Homo sapiens: one gene and its partners. The protein of the gene in region 3 interacts with the protein of the main gene of each other region in a pairwise test. Each region holds a gene or a part of one and is shown on either strand. Other genes may lie near its edges.

Region 1 (7,038 bases), on a different chromosome or scaffold from region 3:
CACATCCTCAGTCAAAGACATGGCCTGGGCCACCTGGACTATGCGGCGGCCAATGATGTTAAAGGCCTCCCGGTGCATTATCCCCCGCACCACTGCTGTCCTCTTGGGCCCAATGTAGCTCATCATGTCCTGTGGGGGTGAGCAAGAGACAGAATGCCCATGGCTCAGAAAAGAAAGCCAAAAAGCACCCTGGCTCCTACTGTTCCGAATCTGCCCCTTTGCCAATGACCAACAGGTTTGCACCTCTCTTGAGATTCATGAGCTATTAACTCAGCATTTCTGAGCTATGAGTATATATTGAGTATTTTCATTTGTCTCCGTTCTCTTCTTTTTCCCAGTTGACATGGGTCCAGGCAGCATCTAACTCTTCAGGGGCTGGTAAAATGGTGAAATGGAAACTCAGAGATGGCATGCTGAGCAAGAAAAGCGGAATAAACAGACAACTGGAGAGTCTGATATAAAAATGGCACATGGCAAAGAAACAAGTATTCATAATAGCATTATTTCTAACAGTAAAACCTAGAAATAATCCAAATGTCCATTAGCAATAGAATGGGTAAATTATGTTTATGTTTATACAATGATACATAGATTCAACTACATAATTATGGATGATTCTCTCACCAGGCTCTGCCACATGAAGGGAATAAAATAAAAGTGGCAGAGGAACATGTGTTATAAGCCACCATTTATATAAATTCAAAAATGTAAAATTAAATACATTGTTTACAGAGATACAGCATATGTGATCAAACTCTAAGGAAAAGCAAGAAAATTACAAACACAAAATCTGGTTGCCTTGGGCCAAAAGGGAATGGAGTATAACCATGGAAGTACACACCGTGCTACTGCACTGCAGTTTGTGAGCTGGGGGTGGGGATGGGGACGTTCATTAACATTTTCTTTAGTGCTTTTATAAAAATTAAATATTTGATTATAAATTTTCTTTTTGAGACAGAGTCTCACTCTGTCGCCCAGGCTGGAGTGCAGTGGCACTATCTTGGCTCATTGCAACCTCCACCTCCTGGGTTCAAGTGATTCTCCTGCCTCAGCCTCTCGAGTAGCTGGGACTACAGGCACCCACCACCACGCCCGGCTAATTTTTGTATTTTTAGTAGAAATGGGGTTTCACCATGTTGACCAGGCTGGTCTCAAACTCCTGACCTCAAGTGATCCGCCTGCCTCGGCCTCCCAAAGTGCTGGGATTACAGGCATGTGCCACCGCACCCGGCCGATTCTTGTATTGTTAGTAGAGATGGGGAGTGCAATGGCATGATATTAGCTCACTGCAACCTCCACCTCCCAGGCTCAAGCGCTCCCCCTGCCTCAGCCTCCAAAAGTAACAGGGACTACCACATCCAGCTAATTTTTTTTATTTTTTGTAGAGATGGGGTTTTGCCATGTTGCCCAGGCTGGTCTTGAACCCCTGAGTTCAAGCAAACTGCCCGCCTCGGCCTCCCAAAGTGCTGGGATTACAGTGTGAGCCACCAGACCCAGCCAGCATTCTTTATTAAAAATATGTGGAGGACGGGTGCGGTGGCTCACGCCTGTAATCTCAGCACTCTGGGGGGCCAAGGCAGGTAGATCACAAGGTCAGGAGTTCGAGACCAGCCTGACCAACGTGGTGAAACCCCATTTCTACTAAAAATACATTACATGGCACATGCCTGTAATCCCAGGTATTCAGGAGGTTGAGGCAGGAGAATCACTTGAACCCGGGAGGCGGAGGCTGCAGTGAGCCGAGATCCCGCCACTGTACTCCAGCCTAGGCAACAGAGCAAGACTCCGTCTCAAAAAAAAAAAAATTTTTTTTTGGAGAGTTTTCTGTAGCAAATGGAAGAAATGGGTAGCAATGATGCAAGAAGGAGGTGACCCAGGAGTCCACGAGCTGAAGGGATAAGGCAAAGTCGCAGCCTCTCTGTTACCTTACCTGGGGAAGAAGTGAGGAGTGTTCAGATATCACGTACACAGTCAGGGAGCCCTCCGCTTGTTCCTGAGGCTCATCTAACATGGCTTCTGCCTCTGGGGGCAAGAACAGGTGGTACACCAAGAGCAAAACACCATTCCATCTCCCCCCAGCCCCAAAGAATGCCTAACCCACCCCTTCACTCACATTCAGCTGACACAGTGGTCAGGCTTGGGTAAGCCAATCAACCTCTCTGGCCCTCAGTGGACTGGGCTGAATCCCACAGTTCCTCATTCCCAGCATTCCAAGAGAGGTTTTGGAAGTAAGCCAAAGCATGGGAACTATGCACTTAGAGATCAGAAGGAAAAAGAGGGCTTCACATTAAAATGGTGTGCTCATCCCTTCCCATACCTTGCACACTGCCCGATGACAGGGCCTCCTCCTCATGGTCCAAAGCCCTCCGATAGGCCTTCTGGAAACGGCATTTGATTTTCATTTTGTCTGGGAGGGATAAGAAGTAGCACAATGAAAAGGGCAAGCATCATGCCTCTGCCCACCTTCCCAGACCTAACACTGTCCAGCATCTGAGGACAGCAAGATGGCTGTTTACAGAAAAAGACCAAGCAGCTGCAGCCAACTCTAATGATTTCTGCATAGATGATATCAAACACATGACACCCATTTCGCCCATCTGCCGCAGCTCTTGCCTTCACCTCTGCACACACTGGTCCTTCAGCGTGAAACGTCTTCCCACTGGGAAATCTATTTCAATAGTCATTACATTAATAGGCAAAAGGAGAAAAACTGTATGGTCATTCCAATCACTGCCCCAAAATAATTAAATTCAGTGAATGTTCCTGATAAAAAACAAAATACACAGGCTGGGCACGGTGGCTCATGCTTGTAATCCCAGCAATTTGGGAGGCCAAGGCAGGCGGATCCCTTGATCTCATGAGTTGGAGATTAGCCTGGACAACATGATGAAACCCCAACTCTACAAAAAATACAAAAATTAGCCAGGTATGTGCCAGACATGGTGGCTCACACCTGTAATCCCAGCACTTTGGGAGGCCAAGGCGGGTGGATCACCTGAGGTCAGGAGTTTGAGACCAGCCTGGCCAACGTGATGAAACCCCATCTCTACCAAAAATACAAAAAATTAGCTGGGTGTGGTGGCAGGCGCCTGTAATCCCAGCTACTCGGGAAGCTCAGGCAAGAGAATCACTTGAACCCAGAAGGCGGAGGCTGCAGTGAGCCGAGATCACACCATTGCACTCCAGCCTGGGCAACAAGAGCGAAACTCCATCTCAAAAAAAAAAAAAAAAAGGCAGTTATGGTGGTGCACACCTGTAGTCCCAACTACTTGGGAGGTTGAGGTGGGAGGATGACTTGAGCCTGAGAGGCAGAGGTTGCAGTGACCTGAGATGGCACCACTGCACTCCAGCCAGGGTAATAGAACCAGACCTTGTCTCAAAAAAATAAAAAATAAAAACCACACACTTAATGACAAAATATTAAACATAATTCTGTAAAGTTAGTAATAAAACAAGGATGCCTGCTATCTCCTCTATTCTCATTGTTATTCAGTATTGTTCTTTCTAAAGTTCTTGACCAATGTAATATGTGAAGAAAGAGAAAGAAAACTTAAAAGTATTGGAAAGAAACAGATAAAATGGCCACTTTGAAGTAGCATAATTATTTCTCAAGAAAATCAGAGAACCAACTGAAAAACTATTAGAACTAGCAACAGTTCAATAAGATGACTAGATACAAGGATATGCAAGAATCAATACCCGCATAAATACCAGCAATATCCAATTAGAAACATCTTTTAAAACCTCAATCACATTAACAATAAAGTATAAAAATACCCAGGAATAAATGTATAAAACTATAAGAAGAAAACTTCAAGACTTTACTGAAGGACATAAAATATCTGAACAAAATGGAATAGCATACAAGGCCCCTAGATGAATATTATAAAGATGTCATATTATAAAGACTATTATAAAGATGTCAACTCTCCCCAAATTAATATATACATGTAAGGCAATCCTGAAGGGATTTTTTTTGCCTCCTGAAACTTGACAAGCTAAACCTAAAATTTATTGAAAAAGTTCCTCTTTTCTTTATAAAAGAATTCCAGGTCATACATTTCTTCCAGAAAGAAGAAATGACAGAATTGTAAAAGTCACTAATTTGGCCAGGTGTGGTGGCTGATGCCTGTAATTCCAGCACTTTAGGGTCCGAGGTGGGAAGATTGCTTAAGCCTAGGAGTTTGAGACCAGCTCGGGGAACACAGTGAGACCCCGTCTCTACAAAAAATTTAAAAACTAGCTGGGGCCAGGTGCACTGGCTCACGCTTGTAATCCCAGCACTTTAGGAGGCCAAGACAGGCGGACTGCTCGAGGCCAGGAGTTCAAGACCAGCCTGGCCACCATGGTGAAACCCCGTTTCTACTAAAATTACAAAAATTAGCCAGGCATGGTGTCTGTGCACTTGTAGTCCTAGCTACTCAGGAGGCTGAGGCAGGAGAATCACTTGAACCCGGGAGGCGGACGATGCAGTGAGCTGAGATTGCGCCACTGCACTCCAGCCTGGGTGACAGAGTGAGACTCTGTCTCAAAATAAATAAATAAATAAACAAATTAAATAAAATAAATAAAAAATTAGCTGGGCACAGTGGCACATTCTTGTAGTCTCAGCTACTTGGGAGCTTGAGAGCTTGAGGTAAGAGGACCACTTGAACCCAGGAGTTCAAGGTTACAGTGAGCTATGATTGGGCCACTGCACTTCAGCCTGAGTGTCAGACCCTATCTCAAAAAAAAAAAAAAAAAAAGGACCCCTTGTCTACTTTTTCTTTTCTTTTTTTTTTTTTTTTTGTTTTTTTGGGTTTTTTTTTGAGATGGAATCTGGCTCTGTTGCCCAGACTGGAGAATAACAGTGGGATCCCGGCTCACTGCAACATCCGCCTCCCCATTTCAAGCAATTCTCCTACCTCAGCCTTCCAAGTAGCTGGGATTACAGGCATGTGCCACCACACCCAGCTAATTTTTGTATTTTTAGTAGAGACAGGGTTTTCCCATGTTGAGCAGGCTGGTCTTGAACTCCTGACCTTAAGTGATTTACCCGCCTCAGCCTCCCAAAGTGCTGGGATTACAGGCGTGAGCCACCGCGCCCAGCCTACTTTTTTTTTTTTTTTTTTGAGACAGAGTCTCGTTCTGTCTCCCAGGCTGGAATGCAGTGGCACAATCTTGGCTCAATGAAACCTCTGCCTCCTAGGTTCAAGCAATTCTCCTGTCTTGGACTCCAGAGTAGCTGGGACTACAGGCACACACCACCACACCCAGCGAATTTGTGTATGTTTAGTGGAGAAGGGGTTTCACTACATTGCCCAGGCTGGTCTGAAACTCCTGACCTCAAATGATCCACCGCCTTGGCCTCCCAAAGTTCTGGGATTACAGGCGTGAGCCACTGTGCCTGGCCACACACCAGTAGTCCTACCTACTTGGGAGGCTGAGGTGGGAGGTCTGATTGAGCCTAGGATTTCAAGGCTGCAGTAAGCTATGATTGAGCCACTGCACAGCAGTCTGGGTGACAGAGTGAGACCCTGTCTCTAAAAAAAATAAAAATTAAAAAAAGCATTATCTTGTGACTGCTAATGAAATGGATTCCATGATCAAATAGATGCTAAAAATATGTAAAAGGTTGATGAGAAACTCTAAAATATAGAGATCAGGCTGACAATACCTGAACTCACTACATAATCTTTGCATCACCCAAAATGGAACAACTAGCCATTAAGTGCTTCAGGATACAACACAATAGGAAGTACACTGCACCACCTACAATGTATTCTCATCCAAAAAATTGAACCTGGCTTTAATCAAACCACTAGATCTAACTCCCAGTTTATAAGGAATATGGATGCTAGAGGAATGAGTTAAATTAAACTGTGAGGAAGCTACTCGCCAAATCCCAAATGTGAGATGTTCTATAAAACAAATGACCTGGTTTCTCCAACAAATCAATGGTGTGAAAGAAATGTATGGGGGTAGGGTGGGGGGAGCTGACATAAAATAAAAGTGACAAAAAGACAAATGCAACTTATTGATCCTGATGGAATAAACCATCTGTGAAAGGATACCTTGGAGATAACTGGAGAGATCTAAATACAGACTGAGAATTAGGTGATATTAAGGAATCACTGCTAACTTAGTTAGGTGTGACAATGGTAGTCATGTTTAAAAAAAGAAACAAAAAACCTTCAATGGCTTCCCTTCTTATCTAGAATAAAAGCCTAGAATGCAAATTCTCACAGTGATCTACCAGGCCCTAAGTGATTCAGCCCCCTTCTACTGTTCTGGTTTTATTTCATTTCCTCTTTCTCTCTTCCTCATTCACTCCAGTGAAGCCACAAGGAGATTCTCACTGCTCCTGAAAGGTACAACACTTGCTCTTAACTCGGGACCTTAGACATGCTTTTCCCTCTGCCAAGATGCTCTTCCCCCAGATATCTGCACAGTCTATTCCCTCGCCTTTTAGGTATTTACTCGAATGTCCTCTTTTCAATGAGACCTCCCTTGTCCACCCTATCTAAAACTGCAATCCCCTCCCATTCCTCAAGAAAATTCCCTCTCCTCCTGTCCTGCTCTATTTTTCTTCTGTCACCATCTAACATACATTTGACTTACTTGTCTTTTTTTCTTTTTTTTTTTGAGATGGAGTCTTTGTCACCCAGGCTGGAGTGCAGTGGTGGGATCTTGGCTCACTGCAACTTCCACCTCACAGGTTCAAGCGATTCTCCTGCCTCAGCCTCCCAAGTAGCTGGGATTACAGGCGCCCGCCACCACGCCCGGCTAATTTTTGTATTTTTAGTAGAGATGGGGTTTCACCATGTTAGCCGGGCTGGTCTCAAACTCCTGATCTCAAGTGATCTGCCTGCCTCGGCCTCCCAAAGTGCTGGGATTACAGGTGTGAGCTACCACATCCAGCTTTGTCTTTTTTATTGTCTTCTTCTTGTCTGTTTTGTTCACTGCTATATCTCTAGTAACTAGAACTGTATCTGACATAGCTACAAAGTAAATACTTGTTGAATAAATGAACAACGCTATTACTATTTCCGTCTAACA
Region 2 (7,038 bases), on a different chromosome or scaffold from region 3:
GAACTTGGAGTCCTCTGAACCTCCCTTCTTGGATTGAAGCCCATTCTGTTCACAGGAAGACTGCAAGGTGCCGAGTCACACTGTTCACTGGTTTATTGAGATTCGGGGAGATCCTTCCCCAAGAGACACCACAGTGTGAAAGGGACACCACCTCCCACCCCATAGGTCCATCTGTCTATCCCAACAGTCAAGGGTGCCTTCCTTTGGTCAGGATTCTCATCAACTATCCACTGGAAGCAGCTCTCCAAACCTGCCCCCACTTATTTTTCCTTAATTCCCCTCAAAAAAACACAAAACAAAAGGGAGCAGTCTTGGGAGAAGATGATTGTGAGTGTAGACTGAGGGTAGTACATGAATGCAATGGAGATGGGGGGAATCTGAGCAGAAATGGAGATTCTGTGACAAGGAGAGGGTGTGGATGGCCCCACCAAACATGAATTGGGGAAAAGTGCATAACAATGTGCAGGGTAGGGTACATATGGCTCTGTCAGAAGAATACCATGATTTAAGGGAAGAAAGTACACAAGGTACATGGAGGGTACACAGGGAAAGTACATGGATAAACATGGACGTGTGCAAATAGGAAAGACATGACTCAGCATGCTAGACAAATTGCACATGCCTACCCAAACACGCTCAAGGGCAGACCCATGACCATGAGAGGGGCACACGTAGCTGTGAATGCAGGGCACCCGAGAGCACATGTGACTGAACATGAAGAAAGCATACGGGAAAAGCGTGTGTACACATGAGCATGTTCAGTGGGCACACGCAGGAGAGGGGAGGATGCATGTGTGCTGAGCGTGAGTGCACAGAGCAGAGGCAAGGAGCATGTGAGCCTTGGCGAAAAGAATGAGCTCCCAAAGGAAGCAAAATTCAGGGGGAGCCACATGTGAGAAAGTATAGAAGGGCAAGTAAGATGGAAAGAGATTATGACAGTGGAGAAAAGGAGAGGCCCCTTTGGGGTGGAAAGAGCACTTGTTGGGAGACCCCTGCTGGACAGGAACAGAGCACAAAGGCAGAGGAGCTGCAGGGGTTGCCGTGGTAACTAGAAGAGGGTGTTGCATGGGAAGAGAAAGATGCAGTGAGGCTGCTGAGGAGGCAGCGTGTGAGCAGTGAGCAGCTTCAAGCCAGGTACGAACTAAATTGTGAAGAGGTGATACAAAATTACATGAAGCAGTAAGAGAGAAAAAGGTCTGTTTCCCAGAGGTATGAGAGACCCAAATCAGCCCAGAACTCACAGGGGGACATGTATTTACAAGAGATGAGATTGGATAGCATGTTCTTCCCAGCTGGGGATGGGGACCCCCTGCTTCCTGAGTCCCCTGCCCTTCCCCTCTCCCTTTCCCTCCCCCTACTGGCCTGTCCTCCCTCACCCTACCCTCACTTATAAAGCAAATGCACTCGACTCCCATCACAGCTAAGCCGGTCGGGGGGCTCAGGGGGTCCCCTGGGCAGGCCCCCAGAGGGTTCTGGGGGTGTCGGTGGGTGGCGCCGGGAGCGGAGCTGCTGCCGAGACTGGAGTTGATGGCGCAGTTCAGAGACACGCTCCTCTTTCTGGAGGAAGAAGCACAATTGGGATAGTAGGAGAAGAGGAGGTGATGAAGGAGTGGGGAGGAGGGAAAGAGAGGAAGGGCACAGGGAAAGAGAGGAAGGGCACAGAAAAATGTAGGGGGAGGACGTAGGGTAAGTGGACAGAATAAATTAAAAGGAGAAATCAAAACAGAACAAGAAAAGCCAGAGAACATAAGGATACCGATAGAAAAAATGCGATCAGGGAAATAAGAGAGAATTTAAAAACAAAAGGAAAAAGTGGGGAAGGAGAGAAAAGTCAGTGCACAGAGCTTCCAATAAATCAGAGAGATGTGTCAACCCAGTTGGAACATCCCTCTCTTTGGCATTGCACCAGCCCCTAATGACAGCCTGGGGCACAGTGAACGCCTGCCCAGGTCCTTTATGCTGGGGCTGCATGCTACACCCAGCTGCTGTGAGTGTTGACTACTAGAGGCTCACAGCTGCCTCTCTCCAGTTGTCACCTACAGCCAACAGCCATCCTCTTGCCTTAAGGAGGCTGAGTCAACCACATAGCTCCCACTCCAGAGCCCTTCCACCTGCCAGGCCAACACTGGATTTTGCCTGAGATAGAATCTTGCTCAGCCCTTTCCCCTCCCCTATGCTGCTCCATTCACTCCTTACAGGTTGTCTCCTAGGACCCTCCCTCCATGAGCCAAGAACATCTGACCCTGTATCTCAGGCTTGGCTTCAGACAACCCAAGCTAAGACGCAAGCCTCCTGGACCACTCCAACACCCTACCCTGACACCCACCCCCGCACCTCAGCAATGATCTTTTCCAGTTCACGGTTCTCCTTCTCCAACAGCCGGGACTTCTCCTCCTCGTTGTTGTTGGTCGATGACCCTGTCTTCATGGTGTCCTGCGCCTCCGACTGCCATTCCCCTCGGGTGATCAGCCTGCGCATCTGGGGGCAAATGTTTGGGCGTGGGGTGGCCCAGCAAGGACTGTACTAGTGACTGGCTGATGGAAGGTTGGAGGTGGAAGGAATGCTGATAAGAGTTGGGCCCAAAACAAGGGGAGGAGTGAGAGGAGGGTGAACGGAAGGGCAGAGGAACTCAGTAATATAGGAAGGAGGGATGGAGGGAACATGGGAACAAAGAGGGTGGGAGAAAAGCCAGATCCTTACCTTGGGCACAAAGAGCACAACAAGAGTGATATAGGAGGAGAAAACTATGGCAAGAGAGGCAAAGGCAAAGGCTGCATCCTGCTGGCTGGACAGAATCATGGTGACAGGAGCAGTGATGAGGCACAGGACCTAGAGGGAAAGACACATTGAGGGAGTCTCAGGTCTGCAGGCTCAGACAAGATCCAGAGTTTACTTCCCATGGGAGGGAGTCTATGCAGACAGTTTCCTGGTGAACTTTCCCTTTGAAAAGGATCCAAATTCAGGATCATCCTCAAATATAGATTGAGAAAAATCTCAAACTGTCCCAAACCAGTTTTCACTCTTGGTTAACCCCTCCCCTCAAGGCAGGAACTCCCAGGATCTCTATGCACAGATTCCGGGTCCTCCAGAGTCGGTCCCTGGCAGGAAATGTCAATAGAGTCCAGCCCATTAACCACAGACAAGCAATTTAACGTCTCTGTGTTTCTGTTTCCTCACCTATAAAGTGGGGATACTAATATCTACTTCACTGGGTAGTTGCAAGATTAATGATACAATGTCTGTAGTGAGCTTTGTAAACTGTAAAGTGCTTTATAGACCTGAAGAATTAACAAACTTTTTAAGACTTCTAAGCAACCGATCCCAGATCTAGCATTGATTCTTCCTAGTCCTCTATATCTGGGCTGCTGTGGTCAGCCTACAGGGTCAATGCCATGGGGTCAGTGCTCACTGCCACATTGTAGATAGCCATGCCCACAGCCCGGTGATCATTGATCTTCTCAGTGGACACACTCTTGGTCTCATAAGCAAGGAAGATTCCCAGCAGCAGCAGCAGCCCCTTGTAACCATAGAAAATGCCTAGGATGGCAGGAGAGAGTCACTTGAGCAACAAGGACCACAATGCTCCTCACTCAATCCCCATCCCCTCTCTGCCCTTCACCTACTCTGAAATGGAAAGGGGGCCCTCCTCTCCAATCCAACCCCTCTGACCTAGCAAACCTCACCCTGTGTCCCCTATCCCTTATGTCCACCCAACTTGCCCAGACCACATCACTTTTTCCTGGGATTCACACAGGAAAGCAATGGTGGCAAGCTGCTGTCAGTCAGGCAAGGGCTTGTTGAATATCTAGAAATAGGCCAGTCTGGGCCACACATGCCTCACCCTTACCCTACAGGTGGGAAGGTGGCTTTCCAGGCAGAGGGTAGGTTTGCAATTTGTGACCATGAATCGAACAATGCTAATAAGGCCAAGGGGGATCTAAAAGATAATGTCAAGTCTGGAGGTGGGGTTACCCCCACTTGTTCCTCTGCTGAACACAAGTTCTTCATCTGTGCTTTCTGTGCTTTGGGCCCTAAGCTCCTCATAGCAAAAGAGCAACTCTCCCCTATTCTCAGAAAAGATTAGTGCAATAACAAAGAGTAGGGTGTTCAAACTGGGTTGACAAGCTCTCTACCTCCTCTTCCAAAGACCCCTCTCCCTCCAAGCCCTCTACCCCTGCCTTCCCTCCTGCCTTTGTGCATCCCTGCCCTCCTTTGCCCACATCCCACACACCAAGCCATGTATTCATCTTCCTGGAGCTGCAATGCTCCAGCTGGGGCAGAATAGAGACGTCAATATCTTCCTTAGGTTCCTCCTTGGCAAATGTCTAGGGCAGAAACAAGGTCACAAGAAAGATGGTTGCCAGCCTCCCCTCCTCTCCTCAACGCTTCTCAGTCTCTGGCTTCCAACTGTTTTCCTATGAGACCCTCAATGCTGATGCCAAATCTCATTCTAGGCCTAAGAATGTTTTCCTGAACCCTTGGAGGTGCTTGTTCCCCACTTTCCCTGATGCCTGGAAGTTCTACACACCCTTCCCAGATTCCCACCCCTTCCTTTCTTCAGCTGAATCTGGAGGCCTATGAGGGGCTCCTTCTAGGAAGGAAAGGAAGAGCTTCCAATACGAGGAAGGCACTCTCTCCAAGTAGCTTCATCCCTCAAGACACACACAGCCCCAGGGCCCTGATGGCCACTGAGCCCTGCTCATTCTCCTGACCATAGCACCTCCTCTCCAGTGGTACCTCAATGGTCCGGTGCAGAGGGTCCACGATCTGCCAGATGGCGAGAGTGAGGACATCCATGCCCACCAGCAGGCCCACTGTGGCATACAGCTTCCAGGGTTCCAGAGTCTGGATAAATATGTGGGGAGAACAGGCACGTCAGGGGAAAATGCTCTGTGCCCCAGGAGCCAAGGATCTGGGGGCTGAGGATTGGGCAGCAGCTCACCTTCCTCCACTCCTTCTTTTCTTCCTTCTTTGTGAAGACCGTGTGGACCCACCAAATCTTGGTGAACATGGAACCGTAGCCCAGACTAAAGCCCAGGCCCAGGAGCCAGAGGCGGGCCTAGAAAGGAAGAGAGGGCACAGGCAGAACAGGGTAGAGTAGTAGCCGGGACTGCAGTAAGGATGGGCAGAACCCTAAGGGAGAGTGGGCAGGGAGCACGGGCAGGGAGCTCATGGTGGCACAGGGAGGATGCGAAAATGTGAGCAGGACGGGGAGCGGCAGGAGGAGAGCAGTCTCCCCACCTTGAACAATTCCTCCCATCCACCCTCTACTTCCACACCACCAGGGTGATCTTGCTAAAACCTCCTGGCTTTAGTGGCCAAAAACCTCCAACCACTCCCCAATATCTATAAGTTATAGCCTGAACACTTCTGGATATGACACAGACCCTTCACAACATGCTCCCATCCACCTGTCCAGCTAGGCTCATCTCCCAGCCCCACACCTACCCCACGCTCCAGCCATGCTGAACTACTCACTTTCTCTTCATCTACTCTCTTTCATGTATTTTCTAGCCACACGATGCTCCCTATGCCCCTGAAGTAGCCTTCCTCTATTTCTCTAGCTGATAAAATCCTATTTGTCCTTCAGTATTCAAATGCCACCTCTTCAGTGAGGTCCACCCAATCACGCCAGCAGTGAACTGTGTTCCCTTCTTTGCCCCCAAAGCACTTTGTGCAGATCCCTACTCTGGAACCTCTCCTATTGCACTACAGCTAATTGTCTGCTTCTCCAGCTGCACTCTGGCCTCACTGGGAACAGAGGATTCCTGATGAACTGCATGTGCATGTGCATGGAAATGCCATGTGCACAGATGTATGATCAGGACAGCACAGAGCAGAGGAAAAAGAGAGAGCAAGGACAGGCAGGCAGATCAGGAGAAAGAGTGGGTGTTTCCACCAGTGGAAAAGAGAACCACTCAACTATCACTGTTGAAGCTGGCCTCTCCCCACAGCACTAGAACCTTCCATGTACCAACAGTCCCAGAGCCCCTCCTCCCTGTGTGGCAGTGGTCCCTTCCCCCCAACTCTCTGCTGTGTTTCCATCTCTGCTTCTATCCTTCCAAACCCAACAAAGGCTCCCAAAAAAAGTCCACAGTTCTGATTCTCAGCCCCCATACCACAGACAAGCCACCATTGTTCAGGAGACCTTTGAGCAGATCCCCTTCCTTTGCCTTCAATGGCTCCCTCCTCTTCTCTGCAAGGCCTGCCATGGCAACCTTGGAACTGACAAGTAAACTACAGAATGAAAATGGCCTGCAGACACAGAAAGAAGGGACAGAGCCAAACAGAGAACAGAGGGGTGATGCTAGAAGGAAAGAACAGGGACAAGAGTCAGGGAAAGCTGAGGAGGAAGGGCAGAGAATCATAAATCATGGAAGGTGCTCCTGAGACGGGTGGGAGAGTCACATCCTGTAAGGAATTTGCCCACCACCTCCTCACCTGGCAGACGAAAGGAAACTGGTTCCTCCCAATGTGGTAACCATCGAGCCCCAGGGGGAAGACAGCAGCTAAAGCCAGTGAGCAGCCCACAGCAGTCAGGTTGTTCAGGTTGGGCTGTGAGTTCTGGATATAACTAGGGCAGAGGTGGAGAGGGTGAGAGGGAGAGAGAATTACCCCTCTTCTCCAGGGAGGCTGAGCTCTCCAAATACCACGCAATGGCATGACCCTAATTTCAGGGCCAGGGGCTAAAGGAAGACAGGATTGGAGAAGACAGTGGAGCCTTGAGAGGCAGAGCAATGCAGTCATGGGGCTGAAGATGGAGTTGCAGAGGGCTTCCCAAGCACAGGCCCCCACTAGAATACAGGCTATTTATGTAGAGTCCAAGACTGTGAGACCTGGCCCCAAAGGTTGTTTTTTTCTCTTCTTTTCTTTTTTCCTCCCGTTAGCTACTTTGGAGTAGGAGTGGGGGTTATATCTGGTTTCCCTGTTTTCATTCTCAACAAGTCAGAATGAAAAACTCCATGATACATGGCCATGGGAGTTACACAGGTTTTATTCTCATCCTGTCCAGGAACATGATCAGTATCTCAGAGAGGC
Region 3 (7,038 bases):
AAAAAAGTGTGCCATAAAATAGCTGACTGTTGGAAAAATCTCTCACAGAGATATAAAAATAGTGCATAACAAATGTCAAAATGGATCAAGGTTTGGCAGGGTTAAGGTTAGAAAAGAATACTCCAAAAAATCTGGAGGATCATGGTTAAGTAACAAATAGGGAACACTGACAAATAAATTAGTAAAAAGCTCTTCTGAAAACAGCATCAACTTTAAACATTAAAAACTTGAACCACAACCACAATAAAACAGCAGAGTTAGACATGAACCACATATTTTTACAGTACAAAAAAGCACACCACAGACAACCAATATTAAGATCAACACTTTGCTCACATGAAGGATTGTCCCAAGGGTTTGCTATAAGGCAACACCCTTGTAATTTTCTCTCTTTAGAGTCAAAAATCTTAGTTCTGCATTTTTAAAAAACATTTACCATTGTTGGGTGCTTTGCTTAGATTGCAGAGTAACTCTTACATTAAAATATAGGGGCTAGTTGCATTAAAAATGCTCTAAAGAGAAAAAATATCACTAATGATATTCTAATAGTGTTCAGTACCAAGAGAAACTCATTAACTACTGCATGTTTCCATGCCACTTTCTCAAAACACCCCAAAAAACCTGCAAGCAAAGTCATTACCAAAATTCCTTCATGAAAATTTTCAAAAAAGCAATTCTCAACTATTAAGAACAATGTTCCATGCAACAGTGACCCCAGTTTAGACAGAAGACCCCAATATTTATAGGTTAAACACATAAGCAAGTTCAAGCCAGATTTCACCATTGTCTTATAAAGGTAAAATTTAATTTTATGCAACTAGCCATCTGTATATTTCCCCTTCTCCATTTTGACTTTACTTAGGGTTTACTAAAGTTTTGCATTCTTCTAAAAAATTCAGATTTTTAAATATGGGTTTCTTATGGGTCTTACATTTGGTGACTGGTTAGCAGTGTGCTGGCCATCTTTGGTTTATAAAGGATGTCTTAACCATGGACTATCAAAGGGGCTAAAACCAACTTTCTTTAGAATTCTTGTATTTTCTTTTACTCATTCTTTTATCTATACTATATCACTGCACATGAATTAGAACCGCACGTCACAAAATTGCACAGGGATTACAAATATTACATCCAGTCTGCATAAAATCGAATTCCACTACTGACCAGATCACAAAATGGCTGCACTCTCTAATCTAAAACTAATTTGCATATTGTACACATGTAAGACGATTTTTTAAACTTGAAGTCACAATAATGCATGCAAGTTTGCTTTTTTAAACAAATTTTATAATTTGTTCATGCTACCTAGATTCAAGAGAGCTTTTTTGAACATTTGCAATACCTCACCTCGTTAGTTAATAATTCTAGTGCATGCATATGGTGTATACAGGTAAGTAAACATGCATTTTTTTCACATTCTAAAACTATGGCAGTTTAGGCCATATTGTGCTGCCTGCATTTTATCTGCAATGCAGTGTGTCTCTAACGTTTTCAGTCCCGTATTAATAGGTGGCATTTACACATAACACCTATATAGCAGCAAAGCTAATACAGCTTGTGATTAAAAATGTTTAAAAATAGCTAATAAATCAGATTATCTTGAGGTATTATTTCTTGCAAGTCAAAATGGAGAGCAAAAAAATCAACCCTAATTTTTAGTTTATGTATACACTGAAAATAGCAACAATAAAAATAAGCATTTGTAGCAGACATATTCCATCTTCACTATTATTTTGCTACCTTTGGTAAATTACTGGGGCAGATCTTGAAGTTAAAAACCCATGTTTAGAAATAAGTGCACGCTTCCCCCACTATATAGCAGCAGACTGTGTTGCCCCTACGCAAAACATTCTCATATCTAATTTTAACTTTACATATAAAAATAACTTGGAGAAAATACAAAAAAACATTTTATTTGAACATGAAAATATCACAAAAATTAGTAAGCCTGAGATGTAGGGTTTTGGTGAAAAACAAGAGGCTTGTAGTGTTTTGGCTGCTGATAAAGATGCATGTATTGATAGCTGGGGTGAAAAGCAGAAGAATGCACTTATTTCTTCTGCATGTCAGTATCTTCAGACACAGTAAGCCACATGCACCCTTTCTTTCCTTGTTAAACAGAGGCCAGTTTGCTATTCTTAGTTCCAGCGGAAGTGGATCTGACGTGGGCGATCAGCACCTTCCTTTACCAATGGCTTATGGAACTCACGTCCAGCACGAGAGTGGATATTTGCCCAACAAAACTCACAGTAATACTGCAGGCAAGTGACATTGGCACAAAAAAAGGGAGCAAATTTTCCACCACAGCGTGCGCCCTGGCATTCATCACACATCTGGTCATCTAGCACATATGGCTTTACCTCCACCTTGAAAAAAAAGAAAGTTAAGTCTCATTAGGGTCTGCTTCAGAAATCAAATTCTGTAATAACTTAAAATGTTCTACAGCAGAAAAAAAGGACCAGCATTAAAAGCTGAGGAAATGGGCAGTTTCTCAAGGAAGGAGCTTTACAATGTAGTAGGTTAAAACACTTTAAAAATCTATAAAAATCTGATTTGCAAAACATTCCACTCTCACCTTTCTTGAATAACATCTTTGAAACACCTGTGTGCTGGTATTTTCAGAGTTAGGGGAGATTATGAGTGAAAAACAAAAGAGATATCAAGTAGTCATGGAAGACAGTTTCCACACCTTTTCCCCTCATTCCAGTATCACCTGTGAGATGGCAGAACCCGAACAGCCACTGATTAAGGCGGCGCCTCTCCACTGCAGGTGCGAGTCACACTCTGCTTGGAAATAACTGGCACAGACAAGCCAGAACTGTGGAGAATCTTACAAAGGGCATGCCTAGACTTCTGTAAATTTATAAGATATAAAGCACAAGTCCCGTTGTGAAGGTCTGACTTGGCAGAACACTTCAGACTGGAGTCAGCTCTGAATGATAAACTTCTCCACCTCAGTTTCCACATCTGTCAAGTGGGAATAACAGATCCTGTCAGAGTTGTGAGGCTTAAATTGTGAATGTAAAAGCATAAGACAGTGCTCGGCACATGGTAAAATATTCTATAAATTAGTATTAGCTACTATTAGCTGCAATAGCCTTGCTTTCCTGCTTGTGATAACTTTATGAATGGAAGGTTTTTACTGTTGTTTGGCTGAAAAGTGCCAGACAGCATAACAGCTCAGCCGTTCCTTAGGAGACAACAGAACACTGAGTGTTCTGAAGGACTGGATTGACATAAAGTAAAGGTTGCCTATAGTAAAAAGTAATGACCCAACAGTTTGTATTCTGAATGTATTCTACTGAAATACTTGCATGAGTGCAGAAAATGAATATAAGGATATTTTCCGCAATATTATTTGTAAGAACAACAACAAACTAGAAACAACCTAAAAGTTGATTACAAGAACTGTAGGATGTTCATTTGATAGACAGGTAATGGAATTACATTGTTGTTTATATTTCATTGATTAGGATTAGGATAAATATATTTTATGTATATTCGACACTTGGCTTTTCTGAATTGCTTGTTTGTATCTTTTGCATATTTTCTTGCTGGAGTTTTGTTTGTTTTTTAAATTGATTTATGAGTTCTCTTTTGTCAGTTAAGAGTTTTTAACCTTTTTTCCAGTGGCTTTACAATCTTTAACACAAATTTTTAAAATTGTTATGCTTAATTTTTATCTCTCAACTTTTTCCTTTATGGGAACATTATTACAAACAAAGAATAAATTAAGGTAGCATGAGAGTTAACTGGATTTCATCTCACTGAATTATAAACTCCATGAACACTGGGACAGCACCCATTTGCTCAACATTCAGTTCCCAGTGCCTAGAAGAATATCTAGCACGAAGTAGAAATGCTATAAATATATGCATAAATGCAATACATTTACATATGTTTTCTGGGTTTCTTTCTCATGGTTATTTCTTTTTTTTTAAAATAAGATTTTAGACAGATTGAAACCAGGGTCTGTGATGTTTACTTCACTTCCATAATACCTGATAAAACACCAGATGTTCAGGAGTTACATTTTAATATAAAACTGTTGAATGAAAATTTCACAAATGCAATGATTTCAATTATTTGTATTTTTAAAATTCTAGATATTAGTTTTATGAAGCTAACCTACTTTACTCAAAACCAGACTTTAAAGATGGAAAATTGAATTTCAAAACCTATTTTTCATTAATAATCTCTAATAATTAAACTCTTCTATATGCAAAAGGAAGTTTCATTAACACTACACTTCACCTAGTCTTATTTTCTAACATTTACTAGAAGTCACAGTGAATTATACTACTTATGAAATAACATACAAAAAAATATAATGAATTACACATCTGTGGTGACTGCTTTCCAGCTATCAGATAGGAACTAAACCACAGTATCCATGAGTCTAAAAAGTTAAGTGGAATAAACAATTTTCATTCCCGCCAAATAAGTATCCCGTGTATCTCTGGGTTGGCAGTTATACACGTATATTTATTCAATTTTTATGGTTTAATAACCATATTCATATTGGAGAGATGAAAGGTATAAAGGTTAATGGTTTAATATTTCTTTGTATAAGCAATATTAGTGACTTGTAAAATATTTAAGGCTCAAATTCTTTCAAATACAGTTCAAAATTACCTTTGTAGCACATATCTTAGAAAATAAGCTTTTCCCTCAGGTATTTCAATGCCTTTTTAAGAAGGCACATGTATCTCAATTCATCTGCTCTGCAACTGAGTTGCTCTTTAAGAGTCAGTACTCTGCTCCAAATAATCGGTCCTTCACTATAATTTCAGAAACAAAGAGGTATGAGGTATGACACTGTAACAGTCTTTTTCTTCTGGTAGTGTATATTAAATACCATGATTACATACTATGTAAATAACGTCGTCTGTGACCTATCACCTCTCTGTTAGCGGTCTAAACCACTGCTGTACATTTGTGTCACTTCCGGAGCTTTATAACCAATTCAGCAGAACCTCAGGGGGTAGGACCCAAATGTCAAGATTTTTCTAAGTTCCCAGGTGAATAATGTACAGCAGAGGTTGAGAAACACAACACTACAGGAACTCTTAATGTTCAGACAAGTTCAGAAAAGTTACGTATGCGTGTCTTGTCAAAAGCAGAGCACCTCCTCTTAGTTTTTTTTTTTTGGCAACCTTTTAAGTAGCAATGCAAACAAACAAAAAAAACCTACTCTGCATTTGTGAACTGAACCTATGCTGCATTTCTTTTCTAAATGAGACGGTTGGGTAATTACATTGAGGACTACTTCTAGCATGCATGGTCTAGTCAATCGGTATTAATTAACCAGCTTCCCTGTCCCCAAAATAGTCTTTTAATGTGCCAAACAGCCCCAGAAGAGGCTTGAAGAAACTGTTATATTGGGGAAAAGGAGTACCCACTCAAATTGTATCTTCTATCTACTAATTCAGATATAAAAAATTCATTTACCCGCATATTCTTAATGTATTTCTGCTATACTATAATTATAAACATGATTATTTTATAATATATTTAGCTATGTATAGGAACTGTTCACAGATTTTGGCATAAAATAGATTTGTAAATGAATGCTAGTGTCTTTCCCTATTTTAGAAGGTAGTCAGTACTTGGAATTATTCAGTAGGGGTTTCAGTTATCATTCCTAGTACTTCTTACAAGTTCTTATTGTGATGATTCAAGCAATGCTACTAAAAAAATTTTAAGTTTAGGTCAATTATTTTAGAGAAATACACACAATGCATTTTTATTTTAGATTTTGTGACAAATGAAAACAAACATTTAAATAACACTCTCCGTCAAGTTCTATTCTAAGTGCTTATATATATGTAAATTCATTTAATCCTCAAAATTACTGAGAAAGACATGTTATCATTGTTTTCTATTTTACAAGTGAGGAAAAAGAGGCATACAGAAGGTTAATTTGTAGAAATGGGGTTCAATCCCAGGCAGTCTGACTCCAATGTACAGGCTCTTAAAACAACCTCTGCCTCCACGGTTAGAATATTTGACCTTACTGGCTGATTAAAAAATTTTGACATGGCTGCACAATGATATTAATATTTTTACATTATATCTAAAGTTTAAAGTGTGTTCAGTAATTTTCCATTTCAAGGATATTTTTATATAATATCCTTTAAGACTTACAGAAGTATAAAAATTAAAGTGTTCAAATTATATTATTAACTCGTTAGGGTATGAGGCTTTGGATCAGCACCTTATTATAGGACATAAGTGATTTCCCAATATGCAACTTACACGTTTATCAATATCACCATGCTGAAGCTGAACAAACCGAGCACTAATGGCAGCAATATAGCTCTGCTGATTGGAGAAAGCAACTCGCCCAGCACCTTTTGGGTATTTTAGCTCAGGATCTGTATCAATTCCTGCATAACAAACTCCACCATACAGCCGGTCCATGATCATAGCAAGTTCCACTTGAAAAGGAAAAGAAGTTTACATCAAATGTGAGAGAACACAGTAATCAACAATTTTTAAGTACTTTTTGTAAAACGTAAAAGTCAATAGTATATTATCATTTGACCAGGAGTAGAATGGCAGATAAGAGGCTGTTGTTAAAAAAGGACGGGGATCGAGGATGCTTTTTTTAAACTATAAAGTGACTCACCACCATCACATCTACCTACTTACAGCACTAAACCCACTATATACTCTATCTTCTGTCCTATAGAGAAATAGTTCCATGCTCTTTCCTAAATCCAATCCTTTCACTTGCATACTAGATCCCATACACTCTCACTTAGGACACTGCTTCAGCAATTCTCCCCTTTCCCTTCTATACAATCAATTTTCCCAAGTACACTATAATTTTCCTATCTTAAAAAAAATTCCCATAACACTTTTTCTCCCTCTCAGCTACTGCTCCATTTCTCTGTTCCCCTTTACAACCAAATTTCTCAAAATCTGTTCCAGTATTCCCCCCAATTCCTCTCCTCCCTTTCTCTTTATTCAACTCTTTTTCTAACCAGACTATCACACCATGACTCCACTATAATTGTTCAAGCCAAGTCCAAT

Evidence for each region. The genes of interacting proteins can lie anywhere in the genome.
Region 1: the proteins of CPEB2 (region 3) and PIGS interact in a two-hybrid assay, tested with the Homo sapiens proteins (one study listed by BioGRID).
Region 2: the proteins of CPEB2 (region 3) and GABBR1 interact in a two-hybrid assay, tested with the Homo sapiens proteins (one study listed by BioGRID).

The regions. Positions count from the first base shown.
Region 1 is NC_000017.11:28,561,501-28,568,538, forward strand, and holds part of PIGS (GPI-anchor transamidase component PIGS), read right to left. Parts: intron 2,408-7,038; coding exon 2,318-2,407; intron 2,023-2,317; coding exon 1,931-2,022; intron 130-1,930; coding exon 1-129. UniProt on the Homo sapiens protein: Component of the glycosylphosphatidylinositol-anchor (GPI-anchor) transamidase (GPI-T) complex that catalyzes the formation of the linkage between a proprotein and a GPI-anchor and participates in GPI anchored protein biosynthesis.
Region 2 is NC_000006.12:29,602,160-29,609,197, forward strand, and holds the end of GABBR1 (gamma-aminobutyric acid type B receptor subunit 1 isoform a precursor), read right to left. Parts: intron 6,575-7,038; coding exon 6,442-6,574; intron 6,344-6,441; coding exon of another isoform or gene 6,308-6,343; exon of another isoform or gene 5,060-6,307; coding exon 4,943-5,059; intron 4,846-4,942; coding exon 4,738-4,845; intron 4,326-4,737; coding exon 4,232-4,325; intron 3,538-4,231; coding exon 3,410-3,537; intron 2,830-3,409; coding exon 2,701-2,829; intron 2,479-2,700; coding exon 2,335-2,478; intron 1,558-2,334; coding exon 1,384-1,557; 3' UTR 79-1,383; downstream 1-78.
Region 3 is NC_000004.12:15,061,481-15,068,518, reverse strand, and holds part of CPEB2 (cytoplasmic polyadenylation element-binding protein 2), read right to left. Parts: intron 6,441-7,038; coding exon 6,259-6,440; intron 2,367-6,258; coding exon 2,139-2,366; 3' UTR 1-2,138. UniProt on the Homo sapiens protein: May play a role in translational regulation of stored mRNAs in transcriptionally inactive haploid spermatids. Binds to poly(U) RNA oligomers. Required for cell cycle progression, specifically for the transition from metaphase to anaphase.